2 separate regions of the Homo sapiens genome follow, and region 2 is linked to region 1. Evidence: fine-mapped expression QTL. A gene starts in region 1. The other region holds a variant in brackets. All regions are shown on one strand. Distances are from middle to middle.

What was found. PIP is the estimated chance that this variant, and not a neighbour inherited with it, causes the effect.
Region 2: its variant is fine-mapped to the expression of VN1R1 in thyroid (GTEx, PIP above 0.99).

What each region holds. Positions count from the first base shown.
Region 1 is chr19:57,454,717-57,460,098 of GRCh38, forward strand. VN1R1 (vomeronasal 1 receptor 1) reads right to left here and starts at 2,424. Exons shown (of 1, transcript NM_020633.4): 1 at 74-2,424. The coding sequence starts at 1,770. The coding sequence ends at 709. It also overlaps the pseudogene VN1R107P.
Region 2 is chr19:57,585,387-57,590,768 of GRCh38, forward strand. ZIK1 (zinc finger protein interacting with K protein 1) reads left to right here. Exons shown (of 4, transcript NM_001010879.4): 3 at 3,153-3,279; 4 at 4,625-5,382. Among named protein-coding and RNA genes, the nearest start is that of ZIK1, 3.9 kb to the left of the region's middle. The variant C/T (reference allele first, on the strand shown) is at 3,340.

The DNA.
Region 1 (5,382 bases):
CCTCTCAAAGTGCTGGGGTTACCGGCGTGACCCACGGTGCCCAGCCACTTTTAGTTATTTTTATTTTTATTTTGAGTCTCCCTCCGTCACCCAAGCTGGTAAGTAATTCTCGTGCTTCACCCTCTGGAGTAGCTGGGACTACAGGTGTGTGCCACATGGTTGGCTAATTTTTGTATTTGAGACAGGGTTTTTGCCATGTTGGCCAGGCTGGTCTCGAACTCCTGGCCTCAAGTCATCTTGAGTGGATCACTTGAGGCATTTGGGAGTGCCTCAGCCTCCCAAAACGGTGGGATTACAGGCGTGAGCCACTGTGCCCGGCCTGCACATGTCTTTCTTACATGTGGACTCTCCAGGGGATTTATGCTGTTCAAGAAGCACCTGAATCAAACTGTGCTTTAAAAATATTTTTAAAACATTCCATGATTCTTCATAGTACAAAAATGAGAAATCTCCCCTAAATCTCTAAAGAATTCCCTTTTTAAACTTTTTGATTTCCTGAACTTGTCTGAAGGACTTAACACAGTTATATAGAGTGTTCTTTGTGTAACAGTATCCATGACTTTCATTTTTAGCTCTGGTATTAGATCTTCCTGGACAAGAGCATTACTGGCCATGTGTATGTTGCTATCACAAATAACTAGTAGTTAATATTTCCTAAATCTTAGCAAGAGTTATGATAAATAGCTGAATTCCATGAAGAGAAAAGACTCATGGCATGACAACCAGATTAGGAAAGAGTGTTTTCCTTGTCCTGCAGGCAAAACAGAACTGAGAGATATGAGTATCACTCATGATGAGGACAAAAGGGCTGCGTGCTGGGAAACATGAGGCGACCAACACAGAGTTGGTCACTATCCACTGGCCTGGGTTTGCAACTACAGTTGTCCAAATTGTCAGAAAACTATGGACTGAATAGAAAACAAAAAAGGAGCTCACCAGGACCATGATGGTGTGTGTGGCTCTGGCTTCCTGGGAAGGTCTGCAGGAGAGTCTGTTGCTGTGATTGTGTTGGACTTGCTGCTTGTGTCTGTAGAGGAAGAAGACCATGGAGCCACTGGCCCAGACCATGAAGCCCAAACTCATAAAATCAGGGGAAAAATATAAGACTGCATGTAATGAGCTAAATCTCTTTGATGCTTTGTAAGAACAGTATCCATAATTGTTTTTTGCACTACTGTTTTTGCTATTCAGTGGGCCATTCACTAATAGAAGAACAGATGCATTCATCAAGACATGGGGGGCCCAGCAGAGGAGACAACAGAAGTCAATAAACCTTGGGGATCTAATCTTGATCTCCATCCACCTGCATATACTGGGGTTGAGCTTAATGGCTTGGAATCCATTGAGAAGGCAGATGGTGCTGAGGGAAACTCTTGTGCCCACCCTGTGATAATAAAAGACAAACTTACATCCAGTGTCATTCAGCAAATATTTCAATCCAAAAGCTGCCATTGTCTGAGGTATCCCTTTAAAGAAAAGGACCATGGAGTTAGCCAAGGCCAGTTGGCTGAGAATCAAGTCCGTGGGTCTCAGCTTGTGTCCAGTGAACAAAATTAAGTTATAAAAACAAAGGAGAAAGGAATTTCCCAGGATCCCAACTCCAGTCTGAATGAGGAAGCTAATCCCTGATTTTACTTTTCCAAAAGCCATTTCATCAAAATCTAGGGGATGTTGATTTTCATTGAGGTCTGAAGAATCAGTAGAATAAAAAAGCAGAAAGAAGTATCTTGTCATCAGTGGAGACAGAAGTTTTAATGTGTCTCCAACCATATTTTCTCATCTTAAACAGAAATTAAGATTGTCCCTGTTCGTGCAAAGGCAATTGCTTGTGTGTCCAACTGCAGAGAAGCAGGTGAATGAATGAGGGCTCAACCGCACAACAGATCCACAAATCAAACCTATAAAACTCAGGGCTTACACACATGCAACAAGTAAATACAAGCAAAACTAGGGAAATATATAAAAACAGAACACAGAAGAGTCAATATCATTAGAGTGATATTATACTATAGTTTGCAAAATGTAATCATGACGGAACCCTGGGTAATATGGACAGGGCTTTTTCTGTATTATTTCTTATGACTGCTTGTGAGTCTACACTTATTTCAATAAAACCTTCAATTAAGTAGCCTGGAGATATGAAAAGCAAAAATAATACACCATAAAACCTTTTCCACACTAATATTTTAGTAAACACCATTGTTATTGATGCATTGAAACAAATTTTAGGCCGGGTGCAGTGGCTCACACCTGTAATTCCAGCACTTCGGGAGGCCAAGATGGAGACCATCCTGGCCAACATGGTGAAACCCTGTCTCTACTAATAATACAAAATACTAATAATACAAAAATTAGCCGGGCATGGCGGCGCGTGCTAGTCCCAGCTACTCGGGAGGCTGAGGCAGGAGAATCGCTTGAACCTGGGAGGCAGAGGTTGCAGTGAGCTGAAATCAAACCATTGCCCTCCAGCCTGGGCGACAGAGCGAGACTCTGTCTCAAAAAAAAAAAAAAAAGAAATTAAAAAAACGCTACAATACAATTGGTAACAAGGCCTTCAGCACAGTACAAATGCTAACTTGAAGAATTTTTAAAAACTATAATTTTTGGAACAATCAACATTGCATCATGGTATATTTTATTTTAAGCACATATATTTCTGTTATTTTCCACCGGACAGGTCTAGAGATTGTGAATTGACTCCGTAGAAATAACCATGACCACCTTGAGCCCACACATTTTTATCTCAATGCCATTTCTCACAAGTAAATGCAAAAGATCCTGAAAATAAATACTAATCCCAGAAACACCTAAGATATCCTTAAAACTTGTTAAATAGGAAATTCAATATGTTCCAGAAAGCTTGGGTTTATTTTTAGGGAAAGATAATTCAATTGGGAGGGAATTTCATTGCACAATATTCATATATATCAATCACAAAAGAAATAGTAACTGCGGCCAGGCACGGTGGCTCACGCTTGTAATCTCAGCACTTTGGGAGGCTGAGGCGGGTGGATTACAAGGTCAGGAGATGGAGACCATCCTGGCCAACATGGTGAAACCCCGTCTCTACTAAAAATACAAAAATTAGCTGGGTGTTGTGGTGCGTGCCTGTAGTCCCAGCTACTCGGGAGGCTGAAGCCTCCTGGGTTCACGCCATTCTCCTGCCTCAGCCTCCTGAGTAGCTGGGACTACAGGCGCCCACCACCACGCCCGGCTAGTGTGTGTGTGTGTGTGTGTGTGTGTGTGTGTGTGTTTAGTAGAGACGGGGTTGCACCGTGTTAGCCAGGATGGTCTCGATCTCCTGACCTCGTGATCCGCCCGCCTCGGCCTCCCAAAGTGCTGGGATTACAGGGATGAGCCACCTCGCCCGGCCATAATTTAGATTCTTTTGGTGTCTCTATGGAATTGCTATCATCAGGGAAAATTATGAGGTATTTTCTCCCATGAATAACTACATCTCTTTAGGGGTGGAGCAATCAATAACACAGCAGTATCAAGATTCTCAGGCGAGAGGTGGCTCACGCCTGTAATCCCAGCAGTTTGGGAGGCCGAGGCTGGTGGATCAGCTGAGGTCGGGAGTTCGAGACCAGCCTGACCAACAGGGAGAAACCCCGTCTCTACTAAAAATACAAAAATTAGTCAGAGGTGGTGGCGCATGCCTGTAATCCCAGCTACTCGGGAGGCTGAGGCAGGAGAATCGTTTGAACCCCAGAGGCGGAGGTTGCAGTGAGCCGAGATCATGCCATTGCACTCCAGCCTGAGCAACAAGAGTGAAACTCGGTCTCAAAAAAAAAAAAAAAAAACTCAGGCTCTGAGGTATGAAAACCTTTTAGATTCCCACAAACCACTTGTTGACAAATGTTTTTCCTATTTATATGAACTCATCATTTATTTTCAAGATAGTTCCTGATTCTTTGCTTTAATCTCTTATTTTGCTCCATTGTCCTAGTTGTATAATTTATTTCCAATATGCATTTGGTTTCCTATTTTTTCAGCTTCTCCTTATAAAGTACCATTTTTACTATGACTATTTTGAAAGCTTCTTGTATGTATAAAGTTAGTGTGATTATTGACTTTAACATACCACCTCCTTCTCCTCCTAGCCTCAGAAAGAAGTGTTGGTAACTGGTGAGAATTTTCAGACAGATTTTCCTTTTTTTTTTTAATTTAATTTAATTTTTTTTTCTTTCTTTGCTTTCTTTTTTTTTTTTTTTTGAGACAGAGTCTCACTCTGTTGCCCAGGCTAGAGTGCAGTGGCGCTATCTCGGCTCACTGCAAACTCCACCTCCCACGTTCAAGCGATTCACCTGCCTCAGCCTCCTGAGTATCTGGGATTACAGGCGCCTGCCACTGCGCCTGGCTAAATTTTTTTTGTATTTTTAGTAGAGATGGGGTTTCACCATGTTGGCCCGGCTGGTCTCGAATTCCTGACCTCGTGATCCACCCACCTTGGCCTCCCAAAGTGCTGGGATTACAGGCGTGAGCCACCGCGCCAATTTAATTTAATTTTTTAAAGTTCCAGGATACAGGTGCCGGATGTGTAGGTTTGTTACATAGGTAAACGTGTGCCATGGTGGTTTGCTGCACCTATCAACCCGTCACCTAGGTATTAAGCTCAGCATGCGTTAGCTATTTATCCTGATGTGCTCCATCCCCCGACCCCTTTGACATATTCCAGTGTGTGTTGTTCCCCTCCCTGTCTCCATGTGTTCTCATCGCTCAACTCTCACTTATAAGTGAGAACATTTGGTGTTTGGTTTTCTGTTTCTGTGTTAGTTTTCTGAGGATAATGGCTTCCAGCTCCATCCATATCCCTGCAAAGGACGTGATCTCATTCTTTTTATGGCTGCATAGTATTCCATGGTGTATATGTACCACATTTTCTTTATCACTGATGGGCATTTGGGTTGATTCCATTTCTTTGCTATTGTGAATAGTGCTGCAATGAACATATACATGCATGTATCCTTATAACAGAATGATAATAATAGAATGATTTATATTCCTTTGGATATATACACAGTAATGGGATTGCTGGGTCAAATGGTATTTCTGGTTTTAGGTCTTTGAGGAATTGCTACACTGTCTTCCACAATGGTTGAACTAATTTACCTTCCCACCAACAGTGGAAAAGCATTCCTATTTCTCCACCACCTTGCCAGCATCTGTTGTTTCTTGACGTTTTAATAACAGCCCACTGAACAGCAAAAACCTTAGTGTGAAAAACAATTATGGAGTCTGCTCCTGGGCAATGCAAGAAATATTTGGCACCTTATATACAATTATATACTTTTCTCCTGACTTTTTGAGTTTTGGCTTCTTGGTGTGGGTCAGTGGCTCCATAGTCTTTGTCCTATACAGACACAAGCAGCAAGTCCAACA
Region 2 (5,382 bases), 130 kb after region 1:
ACACTGGTCTCATCAGGTTCACTGTTAATGCAGCATAGAGAATACTCTGTGGGTGTGATGGAGGCGATAGAAAGACCAGGGAGGAGGCTACTGCAGTGGCCAAGGTGAGTTTTGATAGTGGCTTCACCAGTGTGGTGGCTGTGAAGGTAGAAGAAGTGGCTGGATTCTGGGTCAGAATTTTAATTAGGCCTGCTTGCATTTTCAGATTTTGAGGGTAAGAGATACTGGTCAAGCATTACTCCAGGCATTTTGAATTTAGCATCTGGAAGGATGGAATCTCCATCAAATAGCATGTTATAGGATTGATTTTATTTTTATTTTATTTATTTATTTGTCTATTTTTAGACAGTCTCACTCTGTCACTCAGGCTGGAGTGCAGTGGCTCGATCTTGGCTCTTTGCAACCTCCACCTCCCGGGTTCAAGCAATCCTCCTGCCTCAGCCTCCTGAGTAGTTGGGACTACAGGCACATGCTACCGTGCTACCATGCCCAGCGAATTTTTTTTTTTTTTTTTTTTTGTATCTTTAGTAGAGACAGGGTTTCACCATGTTGGCCAGGCTGGTCTCAAACTCCTGACCTCAGGTGATCCACCTGTCTTGGCCTCCCAAAGTGCTGGGATTACAGGCGTGAGCCACCATGCCCAGCCAATTAATTTTCATTAAGGATAACAGGAGTTTTGTCTTTAGCTATTATCATAGTCTGAGATATTCCAAAGAATGATATATGGAGACATCAGGTGAGTAGCTGTCCATGTACATCTAGAATTCTGGAAGTGGTTTAAGATGGAGAAATCCAAAAGGTGGTGGCCAGTGTTTGGCCCAGAGTAGCTATGGGTCACAATTAGGAGTGGGTAATCCTGGTCTTGAAGATAATGCTATTTATAATGCAGGAAAGGGCTGGGTGTGGTGGCTCACACCTGTAATCCCAGCACTTTGGGCGGCCGAGGCAGGCGGATCACTTGAGGTCAGGAGTTCTAGACCAGCTTGGCCAACATGGTGAAACTCCGTCTCCACTAAAAATACAAAAATTAGCCAGGCGTGGTGGCAGGCACCTGTAATCCCAGCTACTAGGGAGGCTGAGGCAGGAGAATTGCTTGAGCCCAGGAGGCGGAGGTTGCAGTGAGCCAAGATCACGCCACTGCACTCCAGCCTGGGTGACAGAGTGAGACTCCATCTCAAAAACAAAACAAAAAAACAGAAAAGGGAAGGTTGGGGCTATGACTGTGTCTCATGCTTGGACACGTGGTAGAGGTGGTGAGCATCACAAACAGTTGTGAGAGAAAAGTGGTCATGGGAAGATTGTAGGAAAGAGGATGATCTGGTGTATCAGTCCATTTTCACACTGCTGATAAAGACAGCAAGTCTCTAGGAAGTTCCAGACTTTCCCATATTTTCCTGTCTTCTTCTGAGCCCTCCAAACTGTTCCAACCTCTGCCTGTTCCCCAATTCCAAAATTGCTTCCACATTTTCAGTTATCTTTACAGCACAGCCCCACTTTACTCATACTGATTTACTGTATTAGTCCATTTTCATGCTGCTGATAAAGATGTGCTGGAGACTAGATAATTTGTAAGGAAAAAGAGGTTTAATGGACTCATGATTCCGCGTGGCTGGGGAGGCCTCACAATCATGGTGGAGGGTGAAAGGCATGTCTTGCATGGCAGCAGACAAGAGAGAACTTGTTCAGGGGAACTCCCCCCTTATAAAACCATCAAATCTTGTGAGACTTATTTACTATCATGAGAACAGCATGGGAAAGGCCTGCCCCTATGGTTCGATTACCTCTCACCAGGTCCCTCCCATGACATGGGAATTGTGGGAACTACAATTCAAGAAGAGATTTGGGTGGGGACGCAGCCAAATCATATCATCTGATAAGTGGTCAAGGCTTCCAAGGCATTAGGGACATAAGACAGACATGGAGATAAAGAAATAATTGGTAGAAGATGACACTGAGGCCAGGTACAGTGGACTGTGTCCCCGCAAAATTCATATGCTTAAAGCCTAATTCCAGTGTGATGGTATTTGGAGGTTGGGCCTTTGGGAGATAATTAGGTCATGAGGGTGGAGCCCTAATGAATGGGATTAGTGAGTGCTCTTAAACAAAGAGGCCAGAGAGCTACTATCTAGTGCTCTTTCCAACAAGTGAGGATACAAGAAGTCAGCAGTCTGCAACCTGGAAAGAGTCCCTACCAGAACCTGACCATGCTGGCACTCTGATCTCAGGCTTCCTGCCTGCAGATCTGTGAGAAATAAATTTCTGTTGTTGATAAGCCACCCAGTTTGTGGTATTATGCTAGCAGGCCAAACTGACTAAAACACTAGGACTAGTGCTTATTCACCATGGTAAAAACTCGCCAGGAATTTGTTGTGACCCTTGGTGAGTCTGGGGAGGGTGTGAGTCAAGCAGTTGAATAAGTTTAGGAGTACAAGTGTTCATCTGTATGAGTCATTAGGTTGGAGGTAGAGAGCCACTGAGAGTCTGTGCCACTGAGGCCACTGATTTTGAATGAGGGTTAAGAGGTGAGAAGAAGGTTGTTGATTGAAGAGGGGACATCAAGTGCAGCACAAGTGGAGGACGGCCATCGGTGTCTGACATCAGGTGATTCTTGGTGGCTGAGGTTGAAGCAAGGAACAGAGTCAGGAAGATAGCCCTTCAGAGCAGGGTGGGGGCTGTCTATGACAGTAGGAACCATCAGAGGTCTGTGTAGCACTGGATGATGTCTCAATTTGGCAGGCAGAGGGGTGGAGGTAGCCGTGGGAGTGAGACTGAGCGAGTATGGTTCAAAGAATGATGTGTACATGGAGAGGGAGTGTGAACTGAAGGACCCAGGCCCCTGGCATTGAGGACTTAAGGGTCAAAGGTGAAGCCACATTTGATTGTGTCTAGGAGGCACTATCTGAAAGACCCTTGGGGAACTGCCTGACAAGAAGGGATACACTCCTACATACCGGGCCCAAAGTTTAGATGTGGTGCATCCTGCCCACCTCCTGGTTGGTGCTGTAGAAGGATACAGTGATCATTGGGACCATGAAAAGAGAGTGGGCATCTGTGTCACCAGGGCCTGTATTTCCTTAAGGTGGGGATGATTGCGTGGGTGGATGAACTTGTGGAGGCGTTGATTGTGGAGTGACCTGTCCCCATCATGACAGGGCTGTGTGACCTTTGAGGACATCGCCATTTACTTCTCACAGGACGAGTGGGGACTTCTTGATGAGGCTCAGAGACTCCTGTACCTTGAAGTGATGCTGGAGAACTTTGCCCTTGTAGCCTCACTGGGTAAGGCCCTAATACCAACTCCAGTGTCCTGGTCTGTCTATGGTCTTTTGCTGACTTCTC[C/T]ACTTTCTTGGGATATGTGCTATGGGATCCAGCACTGTGCACTGCCTGAGTAGCCCTAACACCTGCTGCCCAGTGGTCTGGGAACACCTGCTGCCCAGTGGTCTGGGAACACCTGCCACTGGGCAGCAGGTGTTCTTCAGTCAGCCAAATGGATCTCTGTTCCTTGCTCTCTTCTTGGCTGGGTGTCTGTGTTCAGATCCATGACACCTTGTGTCCCAAGTTCCCTGCACCCCCATCTGCTAGCTGACATTTTCTTGTGGCTACCTGTGTCATGATTGTAGTCATTGTCATTGTCTATACTTATGGGGACAATGGGCTCTTCTTACTCACTCCTTCTAGTTTGTTTGTTTGTTTGTTTGTTTAATGATATTAACTTTCTTGCCCATGGGCTGTTGTGTGCTGAGTCGTTCTGCATCAGTGCTGATCACTCACATGTTCTGTCTTTCTGGTAGGACTTGGCTTCATGAAGGTCCCACATAGCTAGACAACTGAGGGTGTGCAGAGAAACCTGGTTGCTTTATAGGGTGAACATGGTCTCAGAGAAGGCCTGGGCTTGTTGAGTGGCAACTGGTTGGGGGCATGATATCCGGGCTGTTTTCCGATCACATAAGGAGCCTGTCCTGTCTTCACCACTGTTTGGGTGCACATGCCACTGGCCAAATCTCATTTCTATATTTTCTTCTCAGTACTTGACACTTCTCTCTCTTATTATTTTTATCTATGACTTCTAGCACCTGGCTACCTCCACCTTTCTGATCTTCATGCATCATCTGCTTCTCTGCACTGCTCCCTCTGCAATGTTTTCCAACATTGACACACACATAATGTCTCATGAAGTATGTATATATGACCACATGAAGATATGTGATCATATCACTTGCTACTCAGTTTCAATTGTATTTTCCTGGGCTTGGGCACAGTCAACCTTCTGCACAGCATGCAGGTGTCACCAGCAGACAAGGTCCTCCTGAAGACTATGTGGTGAGTTTTAGGAATTGGAAGGCTACTCAAGGATAATTTTTGAGGCTGTTGGTAGAGGAATGGTTTGAAGGCAATGCCATTCCCTGTCCTTCATCCCATCCTTGTGTCCTTTATTTGGTGAGGCCTCCCTCATTCTGTGATCTTTAGAGATCCAGTATTGCAAAGCAACCCCTTCCTCAACTTGCCCCCAGCTCCATTATCCTCAAAACAAACCTGGTGAATCATTCGTTTGGTATGTGTGTAATGGGGCTTCTTGCTCTCAGCATAGTCAATGTATATTTCATCAGCGGTTCTCTGCTTTCAGGTTGTGGCCATGGAACAGAGGATGAAGAGACACCTTCTGACCAGAATGTTTCTGTAGGAGTGTCACAGTCAAAGGCAGGTTCATCCACACAGAAGACTCAATCCTGTGAGATGTGTGTCCCAGTCCTGAAAGATATTTTGCATCTAGCTGATCTCCCTGGGCAGAAACCATACTTGGTTGGAGAATGTACAAACCATCACCAGCACCAGAAGCATCACAGTGCAAAGAAATCCTTGAAGAGGGACATGGACAGAGCCTCATATGTGAAGTGCTGCCTATTCTGTATGTCATTGAAGCCCTTTCGCAAATGGGAGGTTGGAAAGGACCTTCCAGCCATGTTGCGGCTTCTGAGGTCCCTGGTCTTTCCTGGAGGCAAGAAACCCGGCACAATTACTGAATGTGGGGAGGACATTCGCAGTCAAAAAAGTCATTACAAGTCAGGTGAATGTGGGAAGGCTTCCAGGCACAAACACACTCCTGTTTACCATCCAAGAGTCTACACTGGAAAAAAGCTTTATGAGTGTAGCAAATGTGGGAAAGCCTTCCGTGGCAAGTACTCACTTGTTCAGCACCAGAGAGTCCATACTGGAGAAAGGCCTTGGGAGTGCAATGAATGTGGAAAATTCTTTAGCCAAACCTCCCACCTGAATGATCATCGGAGAATCCACACCGGAGAAAGGCCTTATGAGTGCAGCGAATGTGGAAAATTATTTAGACAAAACTCCAGCCTTGTTGACCACCAGAAAATACACACTGGA